6 linked regions of the Homo sapiens genome follow. The protein of the gene in region 6 purifies or fractionates together with the protein of the main gene of each other region. This does not show direct contact. Each region holds a gene or a part of one and is shown on either strand. Other genes may lie near its edges.

What was found.
Region 1: the proteins of PI4K2A (region 6) and CCNYL1 purify together in Homo sapiens (affinity purification with mass spectrometry; one large-scale study listed by BioGRID and IntAct). This does not show direct contact.
Region 2: the proteins of PI4K2A (region 6) and ALG12 purify together in Homo sapiens (affinity purification with mass spectrometry; one large-scale study listed by BioGRID and IntAct). This does not show direct contact.
Region 3: the proteins of PI4K2A (region 6) and GNAO1 purify together in Homo sapiens (affinity purification with mass spectrometry; one large-scale study listed by BioGRID and IntAct). This does not show direct contact.
Region 4: the proteins of PI4K2A (region 6) and PIGA purify together in Homo sapiens (affinity purification with mass spectrometry; one large-scale study listed by BioGRID and IntAct). This does not show direct contact.
Region 5: the proteins of PI4K2A (region 6) and RHBDD1 purify together in Homo sapiens (affinity purification with mass spectrometry; one large-scale study listed by BioGRID and IntAct). This does not show direct contact.

What each region holds. Positions count from the first base shown.
Region 1 is NC_000002.12:207,738,017-207,743,580, reverse strand, and holds part of CCNYL1 (cyclin-Y-like protein 1), read right to left. Parts: intron 2,927-5,564; coding exon 2,875-2,926; intron 1,359-2,874; coding exon 1,239-1,358; intron 1-1,238. UniProt on the Homo sapiens protein: Key regulator of Wnt signaling implicated in various biological processes including male fertility, embryonic neurogenesis and cortex development. Activates the cyclin-dependent kinase CDK16, and promotes sperm maturation.
Region 2 is NC_000022.11:49,900,644-49,906,207, forward strand, and holds part of ALG12 (dol-P-Man:Man(7)GlcNAc(2)-PP-Dol alpha-1,6-mannosyltransferase), read right to left. Parts: intron 3,864-5,564; coding exon 3,694-3,863; intron 3,612-3,693; coding exon 3,536-3,611; intron 3,424-3,535; coding exon 3,195-3,423; 3' UTR 1-3,194. UniProt on the Homo sapiens protein: Mannosyltransferase that operates in the biosynthetic pathway of dolichol-linked oligosaccharides, the glycan precursors employed in protein asparagine (N)-glycosylation.
Region 3 is NC_000016.10:56,348,489-56,351,988, reverse strand, and holds part of GNAO1 (guanine nucleotide-binding protein G(o) subunit alpha), read right to left. Parts: intron 606-3,500; coding exon 452-605; intron 1-451. UniProt on the Homo sapiens protein: Guanine nucleotide-binding proteins (G proteins) function as transducers downstream of G protein-coupled receptors (GPCRs) in numerous signaling cascades.
Region 4 is NC_000023.11:15,325,445-15,330,819, reverse strand, and holds part of PIGA (phosphatidylinositol N-acetylglucosaminyltransferase subunit A), read left to right. Parts: intron 1-172; exon of another isoform or gene 173-2,506; coding exon of another isoform or gene 2,507-2,599; intron 2,600-4,773; coding exon 4,774-4,906; intron 4,907-5,375. UniProt on the Homo sapiens protein: Catalytic subunit of the glycosylphosphatidylinositol-N-acetylglucosaminyltransferase (GPI-GnT) complex that catalyzes the transfer of N-acetylglucosamine from UDP-N-acetylglucosamine to phosphatidylinositol and participates in the first step of GPI biosynthesis.
Region 5 is NC_000002.12:226,841,610-226,847,173, reverse strand, and holds part of RHBDD1 (rhomboid-related protein 4), read right to left. Parts: intron 1-5,564. UniProt on the Homo sapiens protein: Intramembrane-cleaving serine protease that cleaves single transmembrane or multi-pass membrane proteins in the hydrophobic plane of the membrane, luminal loops and juxtamembrane regions.
Region 6 is NC_000010.11:97,645,141-97,650,704, reverse strand, and holds part of PI4K2A (phosphatidylinositol 4-kinase type 2-alpha), read right to left. Parts: intron 1-5,564. UniProt on the Homo sapiens protein: Membrane-bound phosphatidylinositol-4 kinase (PI4-kinase) that catalyzes the phosphorylation of phosphatidylinositol (PI) to phosphatidylinositol 4-phosphate (PI4P), a lipid that plays important roles in endocytosis, Golgi function, protein sorting and membrane trafficking and is required for prolonged survival of neurons.

The sequences.
Region 1 (5,564 bases), on a different chromosome or scaffold from region 6:
TGGGGGTCTTGCTATGTTGCCCAAGCTGGACTCAAACTACTGCACTCAAGTGATCCTCCCACCTCAGCCTCCCCAGCAACAGGGACTACAGGTGTGCACTACCATGCCTAGCTTCTCCACTTTCATTCTGCAACCTTTCTCTGTATTTGAACAGCTACTATAACTCTTCATTCCTTACCTCTAAGCTCAGATTCATGCTCCAGTCCGGTACATTCAAATGATTATTGGACACTGTCACTGCTACCTCACAGGCACATAGAGCTTAAACCATCTAAAATGAACTCCCCTCTTCCTGTACAGCTTCCTCTCCTGTATCACCTGTCTCTCTACATCTGGAAGCACCACTCCTGCTTCTCTACAGTATGTGCTAAGTGTTCCAAATGGCTTACAGCTCCATGAAAAGGCCTAAGTCTGATCCAGTACCCACTGAGGGGCTTCTATTCAAGTGCACAGAAGCCTTCTCTCCTAAATTCCAATTGGATGCTAAAGGAGTAGGTACTGACCTAAGTATTCTTTCCCTCCAGGCCATGCAGTTGACCTTCCTCTATAGGTTTGCTGTGGGGAGGAGTAAAACAATCCTAACCACTTGAATAGGATTTATTATTCAATGATAAAATCTTACCATAGGAATTCTGTATGGAGGACATAAAGTTAAGGACACAGCTATAGCTTAGTAAGCTAATCAGCAAAGCCTTTGTCCAAGTATTGCTGGTACCACATTGCTGGGCAACATCACGAGCAGGCACAAGAGGTAGGCAGAGATGATTAAAACCCATCATCCAAGGAACAAAGAATTTAGGGCAATAGTTCTCAATCACCACACATATCGGAAATACCTGGGGAATAGAGCCTGGGACTTGGCTTAGACCTACACTGGAATCAGTATCTGGCTCTGAACCACATGGTTTTGTTACCACTCCCCATCACCCCCAGCCCTGCCACCATGCCTTGTATGTGTACACACTGAATGTGTACATGTGCATTGATGGGTAGGGGGAGAAACCAGAAATCTCCCCGGCTGCCTTTTGTAGCAACTGTTCTGTGATGAGAAAAGCAATGGAAACATGTTCAACCATAATGATGATTAAACGCGAATGTACGTATTTATGTTCCTTTCATAGGTTTCTCTTAAAGTTCTGATGATAATTTCAGGAACCTATTTTTATTTGAAAAATAGGACCATACCCTGTGTACAAGACTAATTTCTAAAGACACTTTATAAATGAGAAATATCTTACCAAAGTTACTATTGCACATTCAGCTGTTAGCTGTGCAGCACTAAAAAGAGTACGAACAAATCTGTAAATAAATTTGTGCTCAGGATCATGCTTAAAGTATTCCTCTGGAACTTTTTCTCGCTGAAAGAAGAAAAGATGCAATGTTAGTATCCACTGAAGAAAAAAATTTTAAGCTTTTTTTTTTTTTTTTTGAGACTGAGTTTCACTCTTACTGCCCAGGCTGGAGTGCAATGGCATGATCTTGGCTCACTGCAACCTCTACCCCCCGGGTTTAAGTGATTCTCCTGCCTCAGCCTCCTGAGTAGCTAGGATTACAGGCACCCGCCACCACGCCCAGCTAGTTTTTGTATTTTTAGTAGAGACGGGGTTTCAACATGTTGGTCAGGCTGGTCTCAAACTCCTGACCTCAGGCAATCCACCTGCCTTGGCCTCCCAAAGTGCTGGGATTACACGCGTGAGACACCACGCCCGGCCTAAGTACTTTTTTTTTTTTTTTTGAGACCCAGTCTTGCTCTGTCGCCCAGGCTGGAATGCAGTGGCACAATCTCGGCTCACTGCAACCTCCACCTCCCAGGTTCAAGTGATTCTCCTGCCTCAGCCTCCTGAGTAGCTGGGATTACAGGCGTGCACCAACATGTCCGGCTAATTTTTTGTATTTTTAACAGAGGCAGGGTTTCACCATGCTGGCCAGGCTGGTCTCAAACTCCTGACCTCATGATCTGCCCACCTCGGCCTCCCAAAGAGCTGGGATTACAGGGGTGAGCCACCATGCCCAGCTGGCCTAAGTACTCCTAAGACCAGCAGTGTTGACGTTTGAGCCCATGTACCCCTTAAAATAATTCTGGTTGAGTGACATGACTTTTAGTTTTTAAAATATAAACAATTGGATCTTAAAATATCATAGTGATTCAATACTCATCACCATTTATCATTAAGGAAAAATACAGGCACAACTCAGAAAATTTTTATGTTCCTTTCCACTTTCTATCCACAGAATTCTATCAAAATGTAAACTACTTGTAGGCTCGAAAGTCTTACTAATCATATGTTAGGATTCTCTTAAATACACTTTGAAAAATTTTTTTTTTTTGAGATGGAGTCTCACTGTCGCCCAGGCTGGAGTGCAGTGGAGCGATCTTGGCTCACTGCAAGCTCCGCCTTCCACGTTCACGCCATTCTCCTGCCTCAGCCTCCCAAGTAGCTGGGACTACAGGCGCCTGCCACCGTGCCCGGCTAATTTTTTGTATTTTTAGTAGAGACGGGGTTTCACTGTGTTAGCCAGGATGGTCTTGATCTCCTGACCTCGTGATCCGCCTGCCTCGGCCTCCCAAAGTGCTGAGATTACAGGCATGAGCCACCGTGCCCGGCCTGAAAAAATATCTTTAGTTTCCTGTAACCATAAGGCTCAAAGGCTTCACTGTCCAAGACAATAGTCATTAGCCACGAGCGGCTATCATATACCTGAGGAAGTGAATTTTTAAATGTTTACACCATTTTAATTGATTTAAATTTAAATTGTTTTCTAATTATCTTCATAGAGATCATGTATATTTGTTAGGACTATTTATAAATATCAGCATGAAATAAACACAACTCTATGAGAGAAAAATACTACCTCAAAAAAAGTGACACTTACTGTAAGTGGATGTGATCTCTCATCAAAAATATCCAGGGATCTATTTGCATCTCTATAAAATAAGAATATGCATTGAAGAAGTTAATTCAGGAATTGTTAATATCTGAGTAAAATGTCTGCTGGGGGTGGCGGGAGATGCCTCCTGTTTGCTTTGGTGTTTGCTTCACCAAAGCAAAGAGTTGTACAAATTCTTCTCCGGGATGCCAGCCTTCAGAGGATTTCCTGACCTCTTTTTACTCAGCATATGAGGTTCTGTACTGTGAGGTCTTTTCTACAATGACGATTCAGAATTGCCTTTAAGTATTGGCCCTCCCTAACAGGCAATGGTAATAAAGTATATTTTCACTCTTCTAACCCCTCATTGGAACTCAAGAACGTTTTACACAGCAGTAGTGGTGGGCAATAAACTCTTTAGAACTTTAATGACTGTGAATGAAATTCAGATTTCCCAGGCTTTTCCTTTCTAGTTCTCCGTATTACATTCTTGACATGTATTTGTTTAAGTAGTTTGATGAGTTAAAAACCTTATTGTCTTTTTATTTTAAAAGAGACAAGGCTTTGATAATCTTTACAAGTTTATAAAACTAATACATTGTGCTCATTTAATAAAACCAGTGGTTCTCCAAGTGTGGTCTGTGGACTTCTGGAGACCCTCTAGATCCTTTTCCAAGAGGTCCTTGAGGTCAAAACTGTTCTTTTAAGAATACTTATTCAACCTGAGAAAGCTGATTGAAAATTTAGAAATAAAAATAATTTAAAAAAAAAGAATACTAAGGTATTGCTTGCTTTTTGACTGTATGACATTTGTAATGAGTGTATAACAGCAAAAGTGGGCAAACTGCTGGCTTCTCAGCATGAATCAAGGCAGTGCTACCAAATTATACTAGAAGTTATGCTACTCTTTACTGCCTCTTGCAGTTTAAGAAAAACACCTGCTTCACTCATGAATATCCTTGCTGAAGCAGTAAAAATTAATGGTATTATTAAATCTTGACCTTTCTTTTCACTATTCTGGAGTAAGCAGAAAGTTCACATAAAGTAATTCTGCATACCGAGGTAGAGTTGTGTTAAGGAAAAGCACTTGTGATTTAATTGTGAGCTAAACAAGCCATTTTTTTTTCACAGAATATCATTTTTACTTGAAAGTACAAATGTCATTCTCAAAAATGAAAGAAGTGGCCAGGTGTGGTGGCTCATGCCTATAATCCCAGCACCTTGGGAGGCTGAGGCGGGTGGATCACTTGAGGTCAGGAGTTCGAGACCAGCCTGGCCAACAGGGTGAAACCCCATCTCTACTAATACAAAAATTAGCCAGGCATGGTGACAGGCGCCCGCAGTCCCGGCTACTCAGGAGGCTGAGGCAGGAGAATCACTTGAACCCGGAAGGCAGAGGTTACAGTGAGCGAAGATGGCACCAGTGCCCTCCAGCCTGGGCAACAGAGTGAGACTCAGTCTCAAAAGATAAATAAATAAAAAGTTTTAAAAAAATGAAGCCTGTCACTTCAAGAAAATAACACTATTTGTTGCAATGATAAAATTCAAGCTTTCAAACTAAAAATCAGGATTTGGAGAAACTTGTACCTTATTATGTGAGTTTAACAGCTTCTCAATACTTAAAGATTTTTTAATACAATTGGTGGTGATACTAACAAAAGTGAGCTTTGCCACTGTCAAGAAATGTGAACCAGGCTGGGTATGGTGGCTCACGCCTGTAATCCTAGCACTTTGGGAGGCTGAGGTGTGCGGATTGCTTGAGCTCAGGAATTCAAGACCAGCCTGGGCAACATGGTGAAACACTGTCTCTACTAAAAATACAAAAAATTAGCTGGTATGGTGGTATGTATTTGTAATCTCAGCTACTTGGGAGGTTGAGACAGGAGAATCGCTTGAACCCGGGAGGCGGAGGTTGCAGTGAGCTGAGACTGCACCACTGCACTCCAGCCTGGGTGATGGAATGAGACTCTGTCTCAAAAAAAAGAAAAAAAAAAGAAAGAAGAGATGTGAACCAATATTTTCCATATAACCAATGCATAATATTAGAAAACCAAGTAAGGGGAAATGATACATATATTGTACAAGACAGATGGGTGAGTACTAATAAAAAATTCATTGATAACACAAAATTCCACTGTAACCATTTTAAGAAACTAGCACTTGTGGAGTGTTGGGTAGTATTAAAGAATACTGGCCGGGTATGGTGGCTCATGCCTGTAATCCCAGCACTTTGGGAGGCTGAGGCGGGTGGATCACCTGAGGTCGGGAGTTCAAGACCAGCCTGGTCAACATGGCAAAACTCCATCTCTACTAAAAATACAAAAATTAGCCAGGCGTGGTGGCATGCGCCTGTAACCCCACCTACTCGGGAGCCCGAGGCAGGAGAATCGCTTGAACTTGGGAAGTGGAGGTTGCAGTGAGCCGAGATCGTGCCACTGCACTCCAGCCTGGGCAACAGACAAGACTCCGTCTCAAAAAAAACCAAATAAAAATAAACTAAAAAATAAAGAATACCCACAACCATCTGAAAGCTTTAAAAATATACCTTTTACCAACTATATATTTGCGTGAGGCTAGGTCATCTTCTTATCACTTCTTCAAAACAAATTACAGCTCACTACCAGGGTGCACTATTAGCCACGTAATACACCTACACATGTACTCACTGTATCTAAAATAAAAGTTGAAATTAAAAA
Region 2 (5,564 bases), on a different chromosome or scaffold from region 6:
CGAGCAGGCGTGCACTGGACTCCCTAGCAGATGCGTGAGGATGCTGCTGTTGCTGGGGGCCAGGGTCCTCAGGGTGGAGATGGGGGGTGGGGGAGAACCGTGCAAGGTGGGACGGAATCCAGGCACGGTTCTGTGCTGTTTCAGATCTGTACACACATATTACATATGTACGTGTGCAACTGCACGCAGCATGCCTGTCCTCCCTAGCCTGTCCACAGAAAGGGCCTAAAGCTCAGGCACCCCGTGGCATCGAGCACACCTCGTGTCTAGATCCCGGTCTCTAACGCTGTTCCCCACCAAAGGGAGCCAAGACCCACAGAGCAATGGCCGAGGCCAGAGGCCCAAGAGGACGCCCTGCCATGCCTGGTCATGAGGAGGTGCTCGAAGGAGAGGCACGGCACACAGGCAGAGCATGGCAGGGTTCCCGCCAGCAAATCTCGTACACTTTGAACACCAGGATAATTAAAGACAGGAGTGACTCACAGACCACTGAAGTCGGGAGGCAATCCACATGTGGCCAGCGATAAAAGAGAACAAACGAGCGTGGATAACCAGTGAATACCTGAGACACACAGGTGGATGGATGGGGGAGGGAGCCCATGTCTGTGGGATGCTGGGGCCAGGAAGCCTGCTCTCCAGCCCTCACCATCTGGCCTCTGTGGGAGTCAGGAAGTGTCTGCACAGATGTTCGCCAGACGCAATGGGAAAACCAGGAGGCATCAGGTGGAGAGGCAGCCCCAGGGCACCTGGGCAACAGCCACAAGCTCTCAAAGAGCACAGGAAGAAATCATGTCTTTATGCACACGTGTGTGCATGTGTGGTATGTATGCATGGTGTGTGCACGTGTGCATTGTGTGCATGATTGCATTGTGTGGTGTGTATGCATGGTGTGTGCACGTGTGCATTGTGTGTGCACGATTGCATTGTGTGGTGTGTATGCATGGTGTGTGCACCTGTGCATTGTGTGTGTGCATGCGTGGTGGGTATGTATGGTGTGTGCACGTGTGATCATGCATGTATGGTGTGTATGCATGGTGTGCGCATCTGTGCATTGTGTGTGGATGCATGTGTGGTGTGTATGCATGGTGTGCACGTGCATTGTGCATGCGTGGTGTATGCATGGTAATGTGCACGTGTGCACTGTGTGTGGTATGTATGCATGGTGTGTGCACGTGTGCACTGTGTGTATGCATGGTGTGTGCACGTGTGCACTGTGTGTGGTGTGTATTCATGGTGTGTGCACGTGTGCACTGTGTGTATGCATGGTAATGTGCACGCATGCACTGTGTGTATGCACGGTAATGTGCACGTGTGCACTGTGTGTGGTGTGTATGCATGGTGTGTGCACGTGTGCACTGTGTATGCATGGTAATGTGCACGCGTGCACTGTGTGTATGCATGGTAACGTACACGTGTGCACTGTGTGTGGTGTGCATGCATGGTGTGTGCACGTGTGCACTGTGTATGCATGGTAATGTGCACGTGTGCACTGTGTGTGGTGTGTATGCATGGTGTGTGCACGTGTGCACTGTGTGTGGTGTGTATGCATGGTGTGTGCACATGTGCACTGTGTGGTGTGTATGCATGGTGTGTGCACGTGTGCACTGTGTATGCATGGTGTGTGCATGTGTGCACTGTATGCATAGTGTGCACGTGTGCACTGTGTGTGGATGCATGGTAATGTGCACGTGTGCACTGTGTGTGGTGTGTATGCATGGTGTGTGCACGTGTGCACGGTGTGTGGTGTGTATGCATGGTGTGTGCACATGTGCACTGTGTATGCATGGTGTGTGCACGTGTGCACTGTGTATGCATGGTGTGTGCACGTGTGCACTGTGTGGTGTGTATGCATGGTGTGTGCACATGTGCACTGTGTATGCATGGTAATGTGCACGCGTGCACTGTGTGTATGCATGGTAATGTGCACGTGTGCACTGTGTGTGGTGTGTATGCATGGTGTGTGCACGTGTGCACTGTGTATGCATGGTAATGTGCACGTGTGCACTGTGTGGTGTGTATGCATGGTGTGTGCACGTGTGCACTGTGTATGCATAGTGTGTGCACGTGTGCACTGTGTGTGGATGCATGGTAATGTGCACGTGTGCACTGTGTGTGGTGTGTATGCATGGTGTGTGCACGTGTGCACGGTGTGTGGTGTGTATGCATGGTGTGTGCACGTGTGCACTGTGTATGCATAGTGTGTGCACGTGTGCACTGTGTGTGGATGCATGGTAATGTGCACGTGTGCACTGTGTGTGGTGTGTATGCATGGTGTGTGCACGTGTGCACGGTGTGTGGTGTGTATGCATGGTGTGTGCACGTGTGCACTGTGTGCATGCGTGTGTGGTGTGTGTGCATGTATGCATGGTGTGTGCATACGTGTGCAGCAGCACCTGGTCCCATCTCCAGTGCCCAGCAGCATCACACGCACTTTGGTGCTTTATAAATGCATGGTCAGTGAGGCTGACAGCACCAAGCTGTCCCTTTACCATAACACCTGGAATAGTCACCTGTGATAAGCTATCACATAGGAAACATTTTTAAAATTTCATTCTCATTATTTTCTGTAATCTTGAGAGGTTCCAATCAACATTTATTGCCTTATTCTTTTTATCTCATTCCTTTTTGAATGTGTTTATCTCCTAAGATTTTATCTGTGATGGAGATGGGATGCCTGTGAATACAAAAGTTGCAGTGGTGGCACCAGGGTGGGGGGGTGCGGCCGGGGCCACCATGGTCTCCCCTGAGAGGGGGTGCTGTCTTAGGTGCCCCAAGAGGCCCTCGGGCAGCAAGCGTGGGGTGCTGCCAAAATACAGCTCCCCCTGGGTGGGCAGGACACACGTGGCCTCCTGGCAGACAGGTGCCTGGGTGAGCCCGCTGCTCCTGATTAGTCATGAATGGCACCTGGTCTGGGCGACAGTCACCCGCAGGAAGCCCTGAGCTGGCCACCATCACCCTGGGCAGTGGCTCCCGGGGTGCCAACAAGACCTGGGCCCCTCGTTCTTTGGTGCTGAGAGCCCCAGCTGAGGCTGTGGAGGAGGCCCTGGACCTGGTCTGGTGTCTGTCAGAGGCAGGTGCCCAGTCCTTTGACTTGCTTCTCTGAATTGTCATAATTGTGCTGGAATTGTGCCAGAAACTGGTAGTGATAACAGCTCCTGGAAGGCCTGTGGCTGCTGAGGGCTGCCTGGTCCCCCTCAGGACGGCCGGGGGAGCCTCTCCAGAAGCACCAGCTTTGTCTGCAGGTGGACGTTGAAGGGGGGCAGTTGGGTCAGGTTCAGACTCACACCTGTGGTCCCCACGACGCTGGCCAGGACCCGGTGTGTGTCCCTGTAGAGGGCCAGGAGCCCAGGGGCCGCCTCCATGAGGATGTGTGTGTATGCCAGCATGCCTGTCCCCGGCTGCACATCCTCCCTCTTGTCGTACCTGTGGGATGAGAGCTGGTGGTCCTGCCCAGGGCCCCCACATCGCCCTGTCCCCCGCCCCCAAGGGGCCCTCACATGGCCTCTGGGAGGGCCGTGCTGTGTGTGGATCCTACCTCCAGGCGCTGTTGACTTGGAGAAACCGAGACACACCTGTCTGGGCGGCTGCCACGTCAATGTGCAGAAGGACGTCTAGGAAAACCAGGCCTGCCGTCAGAGCCCAGCCCTGCAGTCGGAGCCACAGCAGTCCCCAGGCAGTGCCCCCAGCACCCACCTGTCTGGGGGGGCACCAGCTGGTGCAGCCTCTGCATTGCGACGCCACCTGGGTAGTTGAAATGGGACACATACAGGGCCGTGGCTGAGTAGGCGGCATTCACCACGAGGTGTCCGATCACAAGCAGAGACCCCGCTTTGTACAGCCAAGACTTTTTATAGTTATTCAGCCTGAAAAAAGAATGGTTACACATCATAGGCAGAACGTAATGACAATAAAATTAATCTACCTACAAAACATACTAGGAGCATAACCTGCTGTTCAACTTCACCAAGTCATAACAAAGAGTTCACCACCAAATAAAACAGAGTCAGTAACCCGTAAAAGTGGTTAAGATACTGCCTCAAGAATTGTCTGTGAAATTCTACCCAAGATGCCAATTTAAAATTTAGATGAGATTTTAAAATATATATATATTTTTGAGACAGAGTCTCGCTGTGTCACCCAGGCTGGAGTGCAGTGCCATGATCTCGGCTCACTGCAACCTCCGCCTCCTGGGTTCAAGTGATTCTCCTGCCTCAGCCTCCCAAGTAGCTGGGACTACAGGTGCACGCCACCATGCCCATCTAATTTCTGTATTTTTAGTAGAGACAGGCTTTCACTATGTTGGCCAGGCTAGTCTTGAACTCCTGACCTCGTGATCTGCCCGCCTCAGCCTCCCAAAGTGCTGAGATTACAGGCATGAGCCACTGCGCCCAGCCTAAAAATATATTTTCAAACAATCCCAAGTGACTGTGTAGGTCAGAGTGCCACCCGCGCGGCCAAGCCCACTCCCAGCAGGTCTGAGTGAACTCTCTGGGACAGGGTGCCGCCGGTTCTCTCACAATCGACTATGCCAATCTCAGGATCCTACGGCAGAGTTAGCAGCTGCCACAGACAGTGTGGCCCACGAAGATGAGGCTCTTTATTAGCTGGTCCTTAACGGAAAAGCTTGCCAACCCTGGTCTAAACGCCCTGAACCCCCGATCAAGACTCACTCTCTTCCAAACCCACCAGGCTCCTCGGAGCCCTCTTCTCCACAGGCCCTGCCCTTTGCTATGGTTTGGATCTGCGTCCCCACCAAATCTCATGTCCAACTGTGATCCCCAATGCTGGAGGTGGGGCCTGGTGGGAGGTGACTGGGTCATGGAGGTGGAGCCCTCAGGAATGGATTAGCGCCATCCCCTCCATGCTGTTCTCCTCATACCGAGTGAGTTCTCGAGAGGTCTGCTTGTTTGAAAATGGGTGACACCTCCCCCGTCCCTCTTCGTCCTGCTTTGGCCACATAAAAGCGTGCCCGCTTCCCTCTCGCCTTCCGCCATAATGGAAAGTTTTCCCAGGCCAGCCTGGAAGCTGAGCAGACACCAGTACCACGCTTCCCGTACAGCCTGCGGAACCGCGAGCCAATGAAGCCTCCTCTTTATAAATTATCCAGTCTCAGGTGTTTCTTTACATCAGTGCGAGAGCAGACTAGTGCACCCTTGAACAATCTCTGGTGCGGTTTCTGAGCTCGAGGCCCCACCTAGGATGACCGCAGCCTCCTAAGTGCCTGCCCCAAAGAGCTCAGCACTGCCAGGGCGTTCGTCCTTTGTTCCCGCCCAAACCTGGAGTGGGCAGTCACTGTGGAAAGCTCGCAATCAGAAACCTTCCACCCCCAGGACTGTCTCAAGGCCCTGGGCCCTGACACCGTGGGAAACGGCCTGCTCTTGCTCCCAGGGTGGCCGGGCTGAGGACCTGACTTCGGAGGGGGCCTTGCTCTACCCTGCACCCCCTCATTTGGACTCCCCAAGTTTGTCCTCCTCCGGATAAGGCCGACTGGCACAGCAGGGGCCCTTGCATGGAGCAGCCCCTCACGCCCAGCACACCAGGCCTCAAAGACACAGAGCTGGGTC
Region 3 (3,500 bases), on a different chromosome or scaffold from region 6:
GGTGGGGCCAAGAGGCAGTCCAGGCCCTGTTCACAGGCCACGTGTCCACTTTTCGGTTTCATGCAAAGGTGCTGTGGGGCTCTGGGCAGGGGTGAGGGGAGGCCACTGCTGAGATTACAGGAGGCTGTCCTGAGACCTCTTCTAGAGGGTGACCAGGAGGAAGGGGGAAGCCTGTGATCCTGTCCTGCCCCCTGCTCCCCACCACTCCTGAGTCACTTGGTCCTAACACATATATCTTAGGAGGGGCCATTTCCACCACGCTGAGGGCTGTGTCCTGGGAAGCCCAAACCTGGTGGCACAGCACTGTTTTTCTTTTGCGCCCCACCAGTCTCCTGCAATGGGTCCCGCTCGCCAGCTAGCCCCAGCAGTGCTGGCCGAGCAGCCTGTTCTCTGAGCCATGGGTCCCTGTCAGGGGCAGGCTTCCCCCTGCACAGGACTGCCTGGCACCCACCTGTGTATTCAGGAAAGCAGATGGTCAAAGGTGACTTCTTGATCTTCTCGCCAAAGAGATCTTTCTTGTTGAGGAAGAGAATGATGGAGGTATCGATGAAGAACTTGTTGTTACAGATGGAGTCGAAGAGCATGAGAGACTCGTGCATGCGGTTCTGCGGCCGCAGGAAGGGAGGAGAGAGGACAGACAGCGGGAGGGAGACACAGAGACAGGGAAAGAGAAGGAGAGAATTAGGCTTGACAGAGAGGGACTGGGCTACTCGGCAGCTCCTCCGAGAGGCTGCCAGATGGAACCTGAGTCAGTTACACCTCACAGCACATCTCATTCCCTGCTTCCGGAGAACCCGTCATGTCGGGGCCAGAGGCAGAGACTGGACTGGACACCAGCCATGGCTCTCTGGGGAGGCTGAGGACAGGGTGACCCGGGCTCTCCCCACTGCAGAGTTCCCAGCTATGTGAGGGTCTCCCAGCACACGTGTGTGTGGCTGTGTGCATGTGCCTGTGTGTGTGTGCATGCACCTGTTATGTGTGCCTGTGTGTGTTCGTGTGCATGTGTGCCTATGTGTGTGCACCTGTGTGTGCATGCCTGTGTGCATCCATGTGCTTGAGTGTGTGTGCGTGCCTGTGTGTGTGCCTGTGTGTGTGGGCGTTGGGGGAGTCTGGACCGGAGCCGGAGAGCTGGGCTTTGGCCCTTCCTGCCTAGACCTCTCCTCCTGGGCCCATCCTGGGTAGGGGGATGTTCTCTGGGAGTGGTGAGAGACTCCGGGCCCTTCCTATGGTCTCAGGGGAAGGCATGCCAGGTCCTGCCAGCATCCTGGGTGCCACCACTCAGGGGAGAGGCTCCTGGCAGGGCCACCTCCAGGAGCACCTGGGGGACTGGCCACACCTCCTCTGGCTGGGTCCTACTCAGCTGCATCTGACACTGCATGATGTTCTAAGCAAGGCAGATGTGGAGGGCTGCCCTGCACACAGGAGCCTGTTTAGCAAATGGATGAACGTGATGGGCGCCCCACAGATGCCGAACGGGGGCAGCCTCTTGCCCTGGGCAAAAACTCTGCTTTGGGGCGCTGAGCTCATTCACTTGGGCAGAGTCTGTCTCTCAGCAGCACAGAGGGCATCTTTCTCTGTGAACGAATCCATTTCTGCACAGGGAGTGGGAGGAAGGGACAGTTTCCCTTATTTTCCCCAAGAACCCTGTCCTAGCCCTGGGAACTTGCTCACTGTAAACCCAGCTCTCTGGATCTAAAGCCCAGAGGTGAACCAGGCTAAACTCTACCTCTGAAATAAGAAGAGTGACACAAGTAACAAGAAAAAGAAGACAGCTGGTGTAGATGCCACTGGGCATCTACGGGGAGATGACCTCCTCCCCCAGGGGTGAGCACACCGTGGGTGCTGAGGAATTGCTGGTCCCACTGCCACACCGCCCCCCTCTGAGCAGAAGGAGGGCAATGAAGATGAAGTGACCACACCAGTCACTGAGGCCCACACTGTGCCAGCGCTCTCCCTGCCCATGTCACTTAACCTCATCTGGCCTGAGGGGACACCGCGGTGACACAGCTGGGCCAGATCCAGAACTTATGCAATGGGTCTCTCCAGTCCATATCAGCAGGCTGTGGGGCTTTCGAGGAATCGATACTAACAGCAGCATGGCGGGCTCCGTGCGTCTTACGGCCAGTCCTCCCTTCAGTATCTCCCCCGTGCCTACATCATTCTACCATGACCTGTAGAGGCGGCCAGCCCCAGCCCCTGGTTCCTATTAGCTGAAGTTGGTCGGCGGAGGGCAGCGTTCTCAGCTGCCTCTCAGGGGCACCTGGACAGCTGGCATGGCGTTATTCCCCACCCCCCAGGAGCTGTAGTACACGGCACTGCCCTTTCATTCTGCTAAACAGATTCAGTAAACTCATATGATCTCATCACTCTCCTATCCTCAATCAGTAAATTTCATTCTGATTCCCCAGGAGCATTTCCCTGTCATCTGTGTGATCCCTCCGGGGAGGAGCAGGTCTCGCTTGCCCTGAGCCACCTCACTGGGATCTGTTCAGAAAAGGGCAGCCGGAGGCTTCTGGGAGGCCCAGTGAACCTGTGTCCAGGGCCTCGGGCTGTCCACACTCAAGCTCATTGAGCCACATTATGAGGCCAGAGTGGTGAGGCTCTGAGACCCCAAGGATTCCACAGGAACATGCTCCCCACTCCACAGAGCCACCTTGGCCTGCAGCTGCCTAACAGAGAGCTGGAAACCCACAGCCAGAGCCAAGCTCCCTCCTCCACTGCACATCTTCCCAGGCACTGCCAGGAGCAGCCACTAGAGTGACCTGAGCTGGGAGTGGGGACTGTGCCCCCTTGGCCACTGAGCTTAGGTGTGGAGGAGAAATCAAGTCCGGCTCATTTAGGCTCCACAGTTCCACTGGTTAAGGCTGAGCCCCCGCCACAGCCCCTACATCTCAGGGCCACAGAGCACGACTCACACCACACTCGCTCCTCCAGTCAGTACTGCCTGGCATCTGTGTGCAGGGCTCTCTGCTGGGCTGCCCCGAGGATGTAAGAATGACCACATCAGGCTCCTGCTCTCCGAGAGCTCAGAGTCCAGCTGGAGAAAGATGATCACAGTCTGTGGTCCCAGGAGTGGCAGTGCAGGGGAGGACTTGGGGAGCAGAGGACAGGCATAACCAAACCTGGTTTTATGGGGAGAGGGCCTTGGAGGGAGCCCCAAAAGGCGGCTGATCCTGGAGACTCGGGGAGGGCAGTGAGGAGGGGAGATCCTGCAGGGCAGGGGAGGCGCCGGCACTGAGACCCCTGCCAGCCCCCCAGGCCTGACTGCCCTCCCTCGGCACGCTGCCTGGAACCCATTGCCAAGGAGCTGAGAGCACAGCTCATCCTTACAAGCTCCCCAGAGGAAGCAGACGCCGGGGTACATTCAAAGAAGAGATACCACCATTTGAGAAAAGAGAAAGAAGTCAGAGATCATAGATGGCTGACAGCCAACCCCCTAGACCTCCACCTGCCCCAGGCTGCAGTGGAGGCCCAGGAGCAGCAGGAAGCAGTGCCAGCGC
Region 4 (5,375 bases), on a different chromosome or scaffold from region 6:
CCATCCTGGCTAACATGGTGAAACCCTGTCTCAACTAAAAATACAAAAAATTAGCTGGGCATGGTGGCAGGCTCCTGTAGTCCCAGCTACTCCGGAGGCTGAGGCAGGAGAATGGCATGAACCTGGGAGGCGGAGCTTGCAGTGAGCAGAGATCGTGCCACTGCACTCCAGCCTGGGCGACATAACGAGACTCCGTCTCTAAAGAAAAAAAAAAGAAGTAAAGGGCAGAGCTCACAGATGGCTTTTTTCTTCTGATTGCCAAAGTAATGTCTTTTCATTGCAGATATTTTGGAAACTAAGAAAAGCACAAAGATGAAAACTAAAATCAGCTGTAACTGTATTATTCAGAGATACCCTAATGAGTATTTTGATTTATAGCTTTCCTGTCTTTTTTATGTGTACGTACATATACTGAAAATCAGTGGGCTTGCTCTGCACGTTACTGTATTGTAGCTTGCTTGTTTCATTTCATCATGTATAAGACATTAGTAACATATTGGCAGGTAAGTGATGAAGAAAAGGGGATTAGATGTCCTGGGATCAGATGATGGGTCTGTCCTGCTGTGTGATCGAGGACAAGTAGCTTAACATCTCTAAGTCTCAGTTTTTTCATTTGTGTAATGTAAGCAACATTGGGAACCTCGCAAGGGTTCAGTGATAGTTCCTATAAACTATTAGCCTAGTTTGTAACTGTCCACTATTATCAAGGAGGTTTTTGGGTTTTTTTTTTTTGAGACGGAGTCTCGCACTGTCACCCCCCGGGCTGGAGTGCAGTGACGTGATCTCAGCTCACTGCAACCTCTGCCTCCCAGGTTCAAGCGATTCTCCTGCCTCAGCCTCCCAAGTAGCTGGGATTACAGGCGCCCACCACCAAGCCCAGCTAATTTTTTGTATTTTTAGTAGAGACAAGGTTTCACTATGTTGGCCAGGCTGGTCTCAAACTCCTGACCTCGTGATCCACCTGCCCCGGCCTCCCAAAATGCTGGGATTAACAGGCGTGAGCCACTGCACCTGGCCAAGGAGGCTGTTTTTTGTACCTCTACAGCACTTAATGGACACTGCAGTTGAATGTGTGGAGGCTTGTTTACTAAAAGTCTGACACAGTCTGGTTATAAAAAACAGTGTCTTCTGAGTGCTATTTGAAAACCTGTCCACTAATCAAAAGTGTCATTTATAGTAGGGAATCATTAAAAAAAATACATAAATACATACCCCCTTAAATAGTTAATATTTGAATTAAACTCAAAATATTAATACACACTGAGTTGCCCGTAGTTTGATGTAGGATTGCAGGCTTTGAGTGCTGGGCCACTGGTTTCAGCTGCATCTTGCACACCCTCCTTCATAAAACATAATCTACCATTGCTACTTTGAGTTTCTTTTGGGTGGGGTCAGAACTTAAAGGCGTATGAACTGATATGCTTCAGGAGTTTTAATTTGTTTTCAATTTTATACAGTAGTTTAGGACACCCCTCATCTGCCAAGAACTTTTTTCTGTGACATTCCTTTATTGGATTTTTCAAACTGTTCAGCTTAGTTTTTGTGGATACTCTTTTTGTCAGTTTATATGATAATTAAATTACTCAACACGACGATAACAAGTACAACTGACATCAAACAGATGTGTGAACAAACAATTGATTCTTGACAAGCACTGAATTCAGTGGTGTGCCAGTGTGCTAGGGAGTGGCCTAAAATCTAGATGTGGGCCTTGGTCAGTTTACGTTTGGAATGGAGAATCTTGATTGACCCAGCAGTCCATTTAAGTGGAGGTTGGCAAGGAAACTTGGCCTGAACTTCATTTTCTGGTTTGAAGGCAATGACATGCTTTCATTCTTTAATCAGGAACATGTGAACCGACTGGCATTCTGTATTCTGAATTCCTCCTGGGACATTAGTGATGTGTTTTTTTGTAACTTAGGAATTGTACCTAATTTATTTTTTAACCAAATAGCATATCTTCTTGAGATGGCTAGCTGAGAAAGAGTATGACACAAGTGTGATCAAGGATCAGCAAAATTAACTACCCATGCAAAGATTAAACCTGTTACCTTTACTTCCCTAATGTGGTATTTTAACTAGCTGAGCTAACCACCAATGGAGTGATGGTATGGCCTTTCCTGTACTCAATTCAGTAATTGAACAGTTATTTATCGAACCCTCTCCAGATGCCAGGCACCCTGCAGAAAGTAACATTCTGAAAAGGAACAGCCATGCCTGTAGCCCAAAAGTGAGTAGTTGTATTAATGGTCCATTCCTTATTAACAAATTAATTTCCTCAGGAGTTTATTGGACCAGATATCAAAGTCCCACTGGAATGTCTTAAGTGAGAGAGAGGATAAATCAAAGTTTTCCTTATCCAGGCTTTTTGGATGTCTTTTTCCTGAGCCTCCTCTTCCAAGCCTGTTTTGCTCTCAGTCAGGATTTACCAGCACTCTGCATGTGTAGGCACGCTCACCTGCTTCCTTCTGTAGTGGTAATGACAACCTACATTTGTATTCTGCAGTTGATAAAGCCTGTTCGTGGTACAATACCTCATTTGACCCTCCCAACAACTGTAGGGTAGATGTTATCTACATGAAATTGAGTCTCAGAGAGGGTAAGTAACTCACCCAGGTTACACAGTAAGTAACAGAGATGACACACGAGTTCAGCTTTTCTGGAGCTAAGTTCTCCTCTTCCTCCACCCATGCCCAGCCACTCATATCCTAGGTGTAGATCAGAAGGTTCTTAAAAATATTGTTAGACTGAGCTTTAAAAGCAGTTTGGATCAGAGATTTTCATTGTCTGTTTTGTGTTCACATGGCAGTCGAAAGTCTCTAGGTTCCATTGCATTATACCCTTCTTAGAGGCTCCAGAATAAATTTTTTTATAGTGGTGGGGAAAAGCCCTTATTCTTAGAATAAGAATATAGATCATTGGTAATAGTAATCAGTTCCATTTCTTATGAGATACTTGTCAGGATTAAATGACATAATGAATTTAAAGTATATTGCCTGTCATAGCAAGCACTCTGTTACTGTTAGCTATTATCATTTATGACTATTGCTCTATGTTGTTTTTTGTTTGTTTGAAGAATGGGCTCTTAACCTTGTACGAGAAAGAAAAGGGTGAGGAAGAAAATGGATTGAAGGAATTGTAGGAGACTAAATGTTAAAAGTCATTAAACTACCTTCTGGTTTATCTAGAAATCCAATTGAGTGATTTGTTAGTAGACATGAAACAAAGATAGCTATGATTTTAATGAGAAGCCTTCATATTCAGAAAAGCTGCGTGGGAATTTTTGATACATACAATAACAGTTTGAAAGTACTAGCAGAGTTTACTTAATGAATTCTACTTTGTATTATTTAATAAAAATGACCCTATAATATATATGTCATTTCTCCTATTTTATATCTGATATAAAATATCATCTATTTTATAACTGATCTGCCTATTTGGGGTGGAAGATTAAGAAATACAATTCTTATGTGTGTGTGCATTTTTAAAATTAATAAACTTAGCTCTAGGTGGATTATTTTATATTTACTTTTACTTTTTTTTTGTTTTTTTTTTTTTGAGACGGAGTCTCGCTCTGTCTCCCAGGCTGGAGTGCAGTGGCGCAATCTCGGCTCACTGCAAACTCCGCCTCCCGGGTTCACGCCATTCTCCTGCCTCAGCCTCCGGAGTAGCTGGGACTACAGGCGCCCGCCACTACGCCCGGCTAATTTTTTGTATTTTTAGTAGAGACGGGGTTTCACCATGTTAGCCAGGATGGTCTCAATTTCCTGACCTTGTGATCCGCCTGCCTTGGCCTCCCGAAATGCTGGGATTACTGGGATTACAGGCGTGAGCCACCGCGCCCTGCCTACTCTTACTTTTGAATATGTACGTTTTGTAATTGTTAATGAACTAGATTCTTAAATAGTGTTGACATTGTTGGGACTTTGGATAGCCACTCACTTTTTCAGACTAATAGGGCATAATTTACTTTATTGTTTTCTATTACCTGAGATTGTGTTTATATATTATAAGAAAATCATTTTGGAGAAAAAAGGAGCCAAGATGCATCCTTTTGTTCTATGGACTGTAGTGATCTAACAGTTGATGCCCTGCTGCCTTCATTTACCCTCATTCCAGGAAAGTGGGCTATAGCTGGTTTGAACTTAAATTTTGCGATAATGTAGTGTTCACTGCAAAATTCTCTGTACCAGCCACATTTTAAACAAAGTGGAGGCAGCAGTTAGATTTCGTTGCTTAGCCTTTTCCTGTGGCAGTAAGTGGGATCACAGACTGATAGAATTTTATAGCTGAAAGAGACTTTAGGTACATAGGTATCTTTATTTTATAGATCTTGAAACTTCCCCACGATCAATGGGCTTGCTGGTTAAAAAAGCTGGGAAAAGACCCAGATCTCCAATCAGCTGCCTGCTCTGGAGAAAACGAACTCAAACCTTAGCCACCTTAAATATACCTTTTTTAGAAGTACGCAATGTATAAACACAAGTGAATAACTTAAAGAATAGTCTGTTGAGATGAAACAGAATAGTCCATATTTTGGGTGTGTGGAAGGTAATGCATGTCAAGGTCTACGTCTTCAAGAATTGTAACTCTTGGGGGACCACTGCCAGTTTGCAAACAATTCCACTCCTGGAAAAGGTTTAAGAGAGTTTCTCTCCTTTATGGAGTGCATAGCTAATACTTTTCAAAATAAGTGGATTCTCAGTCGTTCTGGTGAATTTTTTTAAGTTTAAATATTAATATCTCCAACATTCAACTTTATATTTTCAGGGATCGATTTGCTTAGTGGTATAATACCTGAACTCTGTCAGAAATATCCAGATTTAAATTTCATAATTGGAGGAGAGGGACCAAAGAGAATCATTTTGGAAGAAGTTCGGGAAAGATACCAGCTGCATGACAGGTATTGATGAATTTCATGTTGTCTTGAGGGAGAAGATGTCAATTATCTCTATTTGGTTTTAACTGCATGCGTACCTTAGGTGTGTTGCTTCTCCTGCATGTAATTGATATACATATAATTGATATAAATCTAATGCAAGGACTGTTTTCAAAATTTTTATATAAATAGGAAACCTAGTTAATTCACTATTTTTTCCATTAGCCCAATATTATTTGACTTTGGGGGGCCATTGTTGGAGGCACCATGAAAGGCACAAAAAACAGCTGCTTTAACTGGAAGCGTTTGCAGATTTCCAGGCCATACTGTGTAGTGATTTAAGTAATAGGGCTCAAATCATGTAAATTGCTCTGCACATACAGATTTGGACAAGTCTCTTCCTCAGTAACTTACACAACACAAGGCTTGTACGTGTAAAGCATCAATTTTAATAAAAAGGCCATTTTCCTGTTTACAAATGGCACTTTAACAT
Region 5 (5,564 bases), on a different chromosome or scaffold from region 6:
ATTTGAGCAGAAGTGCAAATTTCACTTTTGATGCATGCAGAAAACTGCACCCTGCTGAGGCAAACTGCACAGAAATTCACAAAATGAACAATTTTATACATTTCAAACATCTATCAGTTACCCCAGTTCACAGAGTACATTATGAGCTATACCTATCCACATGTGCAGTTAACAACTTTCCATTCACTACTTGACAAAACCCTCCTTCCACTACTTGACAAAAATTCATAAGCTGCAATTCTGACAACTACTTCCACAAGCAAAGGTCAGGACTTTTGAAGGTAAAATGCCACATTTACTTACATATATAGTACTTACATATTTTTTAACCATTTAATAATGGCTGATTGTCATTCATTATTATCCCACTTCTACTCCATGTTCTCCATGTTTTACTCTTACATTTCCTTTTTTTTTTTTTTTTTTGAGATGGCATTTCAATCTTGTTGCCCAGGCTGGAGTGCAATGGCACGATTTCAGCTCACTGCTGAGCTGAATCACTCCCGGGTTCAAGCAATTCTCCTGCCTCAGCCTCCTGAGTAGCTGGGACTACAGGCACCCGCCACCATGCCTGGTTAATTTTTGCAGTTTTAGTAGAGACAAGGTTTCACCATGTTGGCCAGGCTGGTCTTTAACTCCTGACCTGAGGTGATCCACCTGCCTCAGCCTCCCAAAGTGCTGGGATTACAGGCGTGAGACACTGTACGCGGCCTACACTTCCATTCTTTAATCAAACCTACAAAAGCTGGAAGTTTTCATTACTCAAATATTCAAAATACCAAATGCTTTTAATTTTCTCAGAAAAATCAGAATTAGAGGGGATAAATTCTCTATCAAATATGCCCCTATTTTTCCTTTTCTGATTTCTCTACCAAAAGTTGTTTTACTATCCTTCATACAAACTTTAAAAATGAGATTCATTTAATTTTGGCATTTGTTTATTTGACTGCATGTCTTAAATGTGCCAAGGTTTCAAGTCTGATTATAGTTATTCCAGGACACAAGCAACACTGCGTTTGGCCAGATGCTTTTAGTAAGATAAATACATATAATATTCACTGTGAGTATATAATCCTGACCACCAATTTCAACAAAGAAATAATGGAAAAATAAAAACAAGAACCCAAGATCAGATGTTCTGACAGCACATGCAGCTCAATGAACAAATTGCATTTACATTCATTGTGCATGTTTCACTTTCAGACAGCACACAAGGTCAAACTACTAACTGTCAGTTACAATAAGCTTCTAAACTTCTGGTCAATTACCTGGCTAATAACAAAAGACAAGGCTATGACATCATTATGGTTATAATTAATTTACACAGATCAGCTTCCTGTTAATCAAATATATCTTTAAAAGCATTTAATTATTTTTCACCTAGAAAGCAACATTCAGCTTTGTTAAATGAAAAGCAATCTTGCTGAATTTAACACGAAAGGCTGTCAGGCTGCTCTAAGACATAAAGAACAAATGGCTTCACAGGGCACACTGCTGCAATACAGGAGCTGTTGCCACATTCCCAACAAACAGAAGCACAAGATGATGGATAATACAACACATTTTAACAGTTTCAGAATATAAAGAAGTTGTCAGGGAACTGAAAGTAAAGAGATGGGCTTTGGGAAAAGAAATGTCCCAGTGCTTTTTGCCAAAATTATATACAAGGGTGGCAATATTAACATATGCAGCATAGGACAGCAGTTAAGGGCATGGTCCTTGGCTCTACGATACACCAGCCACGTGCTCTTAGGAAAGTTAACCTTCAGAGTTTCACTTGTAAAAGATAACATAGGCTCATTTGGTTTCACAAGGATTAAATGGGATTATATATGTATATATATTTATTACACAAAATCACAAATTGTGACAAATCAGACTTAAAATAGTTTTAAAATGTTTTTGTGATAACATAGTAACTAATTAGCATTTTCCATGACTTTCTGTGACCCTACATTTTAAAACTGCATAGTGTGATTAAATTACACATGCATTTTTTAAAAAGTATAACAAATATAGAGAAGAAACCTGAAAGCAGAAATTATGTTTTTCATTAAAATAAACTTTATGTAAAATCTCAAACCAGGATCTCTGTCAAGATTATCTGATGATTTGAGAATTTAATAAGCCTCCATTTTAGGAAGAAAAAAAAAATGTCAGCATCAGCTGGCAAAATTCTTTCTCCACCTTTTAAAAGTGTTATATAGTATAAATGAAAATGATTAGACTATATTTATACATAAAAAATAATGGCTAAAAAATGAAATTACCAGATTTTGTATATAATCTTAAATTTTGCTCCACTGCTAGGTGAATTAGTGCCAACTCCAATTCTGACCCATCACCATTTATGATTTCCAGTATCAATCATAAGCCAGTTTCTTCTCTCATAAACCACACGGTTTAGTGTAATGAGGGCTCATTAAAGTTCTCCAACTGACAGCCCTTCAGACCTAGGTTTTTAAACCAGGAGGCACACAGGGAACAGCAATGCCAGCGTCCCATGATCGCTCCTTCAACAGGATTTAAGTAGTTCCATATTCAGGTTTACTCTGCACCAGATTTCTTTGTCTACCTAAAGTCAATGAAAAAATGAGAGCTACCACCACTCCCTGCTCTCATTTAAATTAATCTGTGTAAGAAGTGTTTGTGAATTATTTATGTAACTCAAGTCTTCCCTGCACAACAACTAGTGAAAAGGGGGAAAAGCATGCCATGCTTCAAATATATGTTATATTACCACAAACCACATGGGATGTCCACAAATTATTAAGTGATAGGGAACAGCTTAGGGCTTTTTGCCTGCATAGCATCAATACTTCATTCTTTCAGTAACAGGAATCTGTCTCCCACTCCCATTGGATGCGGTCTTTGGCAAGGGGCCGGGGGGCGGGGGGCAGCTATCAATCAAGGGTGCCATTTCCAATACTGATCCAAGGTGATAGTGACCAAAGTTGGAATAATAACTATTTCCCTGGAATTTAAAAGTTGTGCTGAGAAACTATGTGACCAACAACTTTTGAAGCTGGTTCTCACAGCATTAATTTGAAGAGTTTTCCAGATCTACCAAGTCTCCCCAAACCTCAAGAGCTCACTTAGCTGCTGACCTTTATGCACATAAACCAGAAAATCTAGAAGAAATGGCTAAATTCCTGGACTCATACACCCTCCCAAGACTGAACCAGGAAGAAATTGAATCCCTGAATAGACTAATAAATGAGTTCTGAAATTGAGACAGTAACAAATAGCCTACCAACCAAAAAAAGCCCAGGACCAGATGGATTCACAGCTGAATTCTATCTACCAGGGTACAAAGAAGAGCAGGTATCATTCCTGCTGAAACTATTCCAAACAATTGAAAAGGAATGACTCCTCCCCAACTCCTTCTATGAAGCCAGCATTATGCTGATACCAAAACCTGGCAAGAGATACAACAACAAAAAGAAAAATTCAGGCCAATATCCTTGATGAACCTCAAGGCAAAAATCCTCAACAAAATACTGGCAAACTGCATCCACCAGCACATCAAAAAACTTATCTACCACGATCAAGTTGGCTTCATCCCGGGGTGCCAGGTTGGTTCAACATATACAAATTAATAAATGTGATTCATCACATAAGCAGAACTAAAGACAAAAACCACATGAGTATCTCAACTGATGCAGAAAAGGCCTTCGATAAAATTCAACATCCCTTCATGTTAAAAACTCTCAATAAACTAGGGATTAAAGGCACTTACCTCAAAATAATAAGAGCCATATATGACAAACCCACAGCCAATATCATATTGAATGGGCAAAAGCTAGAAGCATTCCCCTTGAAAACCAGCACAAGACAAGGATGCCCTCTCCCACCACTCCTATTCAACACAGTATTGGAAGTTCTGGCCAGTGCAATCAGGCAAGAGAAAGAAATAAAGTGTATTCAAATAGGAAGAGAGGAAGTGAAATTATCTGTTTGCAGATGACATGATCCTATATCTAGAAAACCCCATTGTGTCAGCCCAAAAGCTTCTTAAGCTGATAAGCAACTTCAGCAAAGTCTCAGGATACAAAATCAATGTGCAAAAATTGCTAGCATTCCTATACACCAACACCGGCAAGCAGAAAGCCAAATCATAAATGAACTCCCATTCACAACTGCTACAAAAAGAATAAAATACCTAGGAATACCGCCAACAAGGGAAGTGAAAGACCTCTTCAAGGAGAACTACAAACCACTGTTCAAAGAAATTAGAGAGGACACAAATGGAAAAACATTCCATGCTCATGAACAGAGAGAATCAATATCATGAAAACGGCCATACTGCCCAAAGTAATTTATAGATTTAATGCTATTCCCATTAAACTTTCATTGACATTGTTCGCAGATTTAGATAAAACTATTTTATGGAATCAAAAAGAGCCCAAGTAGCCAAAACAATTCTTAGCAAAAAGAACAAAGTTGGAGGCATCACACTACCAGACTTCAAACTATACTAAAAGGCTACAGTAACGAAAACAGCATGGTACTGGTACAAGAACAGATACATAGACAGATGGAACAAAATAGAGAACTCAGAAACGAGACCACACAACTACAACAACTTGATCTTTGACAAACCTGGCCAAAACAAGAAATAGAGAAAGGATTCCCTATTTAATAAATGGTGCTGGGAGAAATGGGTAGCCATATGCAGAAAACTGAAACTAGACCCCTTATATTACATACAAAAATTAACTCACAATGAATTAAAGACTTAAATGTCAAACCCAAAACTATAAAAATCCTAGAAGAAAATCTAGGTAATACCATTCAGGACATAGGTATGGGCAAAGATTTCATGATGAAAACACCAAAAGCAATTGCAACAAAAGCAAAAATTGACAAATGGGACCTGATTAAACTAAAGAGCTTCTGCACAGCAAAAGAGACTATCATTAGAGTGAACAGACAACCTACAGAATGGGAGAAAATTTTTACAGTCTATCCATCTGACAAAGGTTTAATATCCACAGTCTACAAGGAACTTAAATTTAGGAGAAAAAAACAACCCCATTAAAAAGTGGGCAAAGGACATGAACAGACACTTCTCAAAAGAAAACATACATGCAGCCATGAAACATATGAAAAAAAGCTCAACATCACTGATCATTAGAGAAATGCAAATCAAAACCACAATGAGATACTATCTCATGCCAGTCAGAATGGCTATTATTAAAAAGTCAAAAAACAACACATGCTGGCGAGGTTGCAGGGAAAACAGAATGCTACTACACTGTTGGTGGAAGTATAAGTTAGTTCAACCACTGTGTAAGACAGACTGGCGATTCCTCAAAGACCTAGAGGTAGAAATACCATTAGACCCAGCATTGCCATTACTGGGTATATACCCAAAGGAATAGAAATCATTCTATTATAAAGATACATGCATGCATATGTTAAATGTGGCACTATTCACAATAGCAAAAACATGGAATTGACCTAAATGCCCATCAATGATAGATGGATAAAGAAGATGTGGTACATATGAAATATTATGCAGCCACACAAAGGAATGAAATCATGTCCTTTGCAGGGACATG
Region 6 (5,564 bases):
CCTTGCTCCTTTTTCCCTCTTCTCCATCTCTTTTCCCTCATATAAGTACCTACCTCTAACTTTGTGCTTCAAACAAACAAGGTAAATGGATTGCTACATTTCTAGGAGCAAGACACAGAAGCAGGCCAGGTACAAGGGTTCATGCCTGTAATCCCAGCACTTTGGGAGGCCAAGGCGGGTGGATAATTTGAGGCCAGGAGTTTGAGACCAGCCTGGCCAACATGGCGAAACCCTGTCTCTACTAAAAATACAAAAAGTAGCTGGGCGCGGTGGTGCACACCTGTAATTCCAGTTACTTCAGAGGCTGAGGCATGAGAATCACTTGAACCCATGGGGCGGAGGTTGCAGTGAGCCTAGATTGCCCACACTGCATTCCTCACCCTGGGCGACCAAACGAGACCCTGTCTCACAAAAAAAAAAAAAAAAGGTACAGAAGCCAATTCAGTGGTAGATCGTGAGTCACTGGCAGCATCTAATGCCAATATGGTACTGCTTCCTGCCCTCCAGAAAGATACAATATCCTAATGCACATATCGAGGGCTCTAAAGTAATCTTTCCCCCAAAAAAATGAGGAATTAACTTATCACAGGTTATATGTTCTCTTTTTTTGCATGCACCCCTGCCCTATTTATCCTACGGGATCTTTCTGTATGTGGTATGCCAGAAATTTAACATCATAAACTCTAATTTCCGAAGTTACATTATGCACACTGTTGTTCTGCACCAATTACAGAAAGACTAAAAACTTTACCAACTGGAAGGAAGTAAAGAAGGTATTATGGGCCGGGCATGGTGGCTTACGCTTGTAATCCCAGCACTTTGGGAGGCCAAGGTGGGCAGATAACCTGAGGTCAAGAGTTCGAGACCAGCCTGGCCAACATGGTGAAACCCTGTCTCTACTAAAAATACAAAAATTAGCTGGGCATGGTGGCATGCACCTGTAATCCCAGCTACCCGGGAGGCTGAGGCAGGAGAATCACTTGAACTCAGGAGGCGGAGGTTGCAGTGAGCTGAGATCACGCCACTGCACTCCAGCCTGGGTGACAAGACCAAGCCTCTGCCTCAAAAAAAAAAAAAAAAAAAAAAAAAAAAAAATCTATTATGGAATGAGGTTAAGGAAATTCCTTCATCAATGATGAAGAGATTTCCTCTCGCAGCCTTATTATCCAAAGAGAAAAATCACAGCAGGAAAAAGACTCTGCTACTTGGTTAGAATGAAGCTCTCTTAAGTAATTCTGATAGGCAAGAAACCAGGACATGAGATGCCACACAGATTAAATCCATCTTCTATAGCAGACAGTAACTTAATCTTCTAAGGTCTTTGGAAATATGGGATGCCTAGAAACTATGGCCCTCCCTCCTGAGTGTTTTCTTCAACAGGCCAGTCAGCCCTCTGAGGTTGTTTTACATTCATCTAATTCCCTCCAGTCCCCAAACTGGTAATTCAAAGGAAAAAAGCAAATATGCTATCCAAGTGATTCATCCTCATATCATATGACTCTCCTTGTCCCCTCACCCCACAGCCTACTCAAGCTAGTCTGGGTCATAAGATATTTTTCTGTGGGTGTCACTTCCTGAATGGCAGGTCACAGCAGACAACATACACCCATCTGCTTTTACCAACTCAGTACTCATATTAGGAACTAGCTAGGTCCATGTCGCTAACAATAACTGGTCGATCTTGAAGCCAGCTCCTTTAAAAATGCCTTCCAAGGATTTGAGAGGACAAGAAAAATACAGAACTCCTCCTTCTCCCTCCAAAAAGAATCAATTTATTCTTAAAGACAAACTAACTTATTTACTGGCAAATGCAAAATGCATATATTCACATCATAAGTCTTCAGAATTACTTTCTTATGCAAAGCAGCTAGCTAGAGTCCTCAGCAGTCTTCTCTGTCTCTGCTCCCCTGGAACCCCAGCCTCTGAATAACAAAGCAGCAGTAGCAACAGGCTCACAACTCAGAGAATGACTGACGAGTCCACTGTAACCCTCCGGACCCTGGACAGGGAAACCAAAAGGCAACTTGAAGCATGTCCCAGAACGCAACAGTCAGTTCAACTGAGGCACATTATGGAGTTCAGTAAGCTGGTCCTCAATGAAAAGGAGGCCAAGACACTCCTACTACTACTGGGGGCTGAAAAATACCAGGGCTGAGGTCAACTGGTAAATACTTCTACTTAAAGACAGAAAAAGTTGGGCATGGTGGCTCATGCCTATAAGCCCAGCACTTTCAGAGGATGAGGCAGGATTGCCTGAGGCCTGGAGTTTGAGACCAGTTTGGGCAATACCACAAGACTCTGTCACTAATTTTTAAAAATTAGCCGGGAATCATGCCTGTAATCCCAGCACTTTGGGAGGCCAAGGAGGGTGGATCACCTGAGGTCAGGAGTTCGAGACCAGCCTGACCAACATGGAGAAACCCCATCTCTACTAAAAATACAAAATTAGCCAGGCATGGTGGCACATGCCTGTAGTCCCAGCTACTCGGGAGGCGAGGCAGGAGAATCGCTTGAACCTGGGAGGTGGAGGTCGCAGTGAGCCGAGATCATGCCATTGCACTCCAGCCTGGGCAATGAGCGAAATAGCATCTCAAAAAAAAAAAAAAAAAAAATTAGCTAAGTGTGGTGGTATGCACCTGTAGTCCCAGCTACTCGGCGGGGAGAATCCCTTGTGCCTAGGAGATCAAGGCTGCAGTGAGCTAGAAGCATGCCACTGCACTGTAGCCTGGGTGACAGAGCAAGACCCCATCTCTAAAAAAGAAAAATTAAACAACAACAACAAAAAAAAAGCAAGCAGAACTTGAAGGCCAAGATTGCAGTCAAGTGTCATTTAAAGACTGACCTCTCAAACATCTTGATTTCCTTCTACCATAAGGAGAATAAGAAGCATTTCAATGACTCCAAAAGCATGAGTAATTATGGTTATGCAATAGTACAGGGGTTTTATTAAAGAATACTGCCTGGACTAGATCAATGAGGGAATGTTAGAGTATGAAGAATGGAGGAACAAAAGGGCATTCAGACAGAAGGGGAGACAAGTGCCTTTCAGGACTAAGTGTAAGCCTCAGTTCAATTCAATTATGTTAGCATTTGCTCAGGACCTAGCCTGTGGAGAACGATGTGCAAGCATTCTGCAGGCATTTGGTGGCTTTCCTAGACAGAGAGGTAAAATACCCTCTGGCCTAATTTCCAATGTTCACTTCATAAAATCAACTATGCTACTGAATAATCAAGAATACTCTTCTCATTCATGGAGAACAAACTCTAAAACCACTCAAATTGGAAAGACACCCACCAGTATTTAGCTGGAAAAGAAAATGACTACTGCCTAATTTTTCCTCACCATCCACTCTCTTCTTTAATATTTTGTGTTTTTTTTCTCTTAATAGATTTTCAATTCCTTTATTATATCTAGGAGAGAGCTTCAGTTTGATGCCAATATTATAAAAACAACTTTTCTTAACACCCATTTACTAATCTCCCCTTTTAACAAAGGAGGGGTGAGGTACAGATAGCTTAAGCAGTAGCAGTCCATGAAGTTGGGAATAAAAACCAAATCACACAAGAAAGCAAGAGGCCATGCACCAGCTGGTGTCAGAACCCACAACCAATTACTGGAACCTGAGCCCAGCGCAGTGGCTCACACTTATAATCCCAGCACTTGGGAGGCCAAGGCAGGTGGATCATTTGAGGTCAGGAGTTCAAGACCAGCCTGGCCAACATGGTGAAACCCCATCTCTACAAAAAAAAAAAATAGAAAAAATTAGCCGGGCATGGTGGCATGCACCTGTAGTACCAGCTACTCAGGAGGCTGAGGCGGGAGAATCGCTTGAACCCAGGAGGTGGAAGTTGCAGTGAGCCAAGATCACACCACTGCACTCCAGCCTGGGCAACAGAGCTAGACCCCCCTCTCAAAACAAACAACAACAAAAAATTACTGGAACCTGGAACCCAGCGGGGTTCCTATATCTAATCAGCAATGACAAGGAGGAGGGTGTCATGCTATGCTAAAAGAGGTCCTTTCTCCAAGAACCTAAAATGTAAGACAGTTCAAGCATATCATTCACATCGCACAGTGAAATATACAGAAATTACCTTTTATAAAAGTCTTCTTTTAAAGTTTCATAAACATTAAGTGGATAGTTCTCAAACGTTTTGGTCTCAAAAAGTTTAAACTCTTAAAAATTAGGCTGGGTGTGGTGGCTCATGCCTGTAATCCCAGTACTTTGGGAGGCCAAAGCGGGTGGATCACCTGAGATCAGGAGTTTGAGACCACCCTGGCCAACATGCTGAAATCCTGTCTCTACTAAAAATACGAAAATTAGCCGGGCATGGTGGTGGGCGCACCTGTAATCCCAGCTACTTGGGAGGCTGAAGCAGGAGAATTGCTTGAACCCAGGAGGCAGAGGTTGCAGTGAGTCGAGATCATGCCTGATCTAGCCTGAGCGACAGAGTGAGGCTCCATCTCAAAAAAAAAAAAAAAAATTATTAAGGACTCCAAAAAGCATTTGTTAATGTGGGTAAAGGCTATATCTCATATCTTAGTATTCAATCTGTTTCAATATCACACATCATGTAGTCTCTGGAAATCTCCACTCTCCACTCCTAAGTAAATGAGAATGAAAAAGGCAAATAAAGTCTTAGAATTATGATGAAAATAATTTTGACCTGTGGACCCCAAAAAGGAACTCCCAGAGGTCAAGATCCCTGGGCCACACTCTAAGAACTGCTGTATTCTATGGTATAGGTTGGAGGAAAATAGTAGTCCTTGATTTAGCTATTTAGGTAGAGAAGCCTTATTTACAAGTTCATTCTTACAAAAGGAAGGGAAGGGCTTGTTGAAATATATAAAACCATCCAGGCACAGTGGCTCACACCTGTAATCCCAACACTGGGAGGCCAAGGCTGCAATGAGCCAAGGTTGTGCCACTGCACTCCAGCCTGGGCGACAGGGTGAGAAACTGTCTCAAAAATATATATATAATAAAATATAATAAAATTATTTTACTAAAACGTTAAGAGGCAGTCAAGTTTGTCATACATGTAGGTCTCGAGATTTTAAGCATCATCTACCAACTTTTTTTTTTTTTTTTTTTTGAGATAGAGTCTTGCTGTCTCGCCCAGGCTGGAGAGCAGTGGCACGATCTTGGCTCACTGCAAGCTCCGCCTCCCGGGTTCACGCCATTCTCCTACCTCAGCCTCCCGAGTAGCTGGGACTACAGGTGCCCGCCACCACGCCCGGCTAATTTTTTGTATTTCTAGTAGAGATGGGGTTTCACCATGTTAACCAGGATGGTCTCTATCTCCTGACCTTGTGATCCGCCCGCTTCAGCCTCCCAAAGTGCTGGGATTACAGGCGTGAACCACTGCGCCCCATCTACCAACTCTTATAGCCTTATTCGATACCATGTACCCCAAGAACCCTAATTAAGCAGTTAGTAGGAATGTTTTTAAAAATCTGATTGAGCTGCCCCAACTAAGTGCCAGGAACTACGTCAGGGCTTTCATGTGTGATATGTCATTTAATCCTCTTAACCTAGTGAGTCACATGCTGTCCTATGATT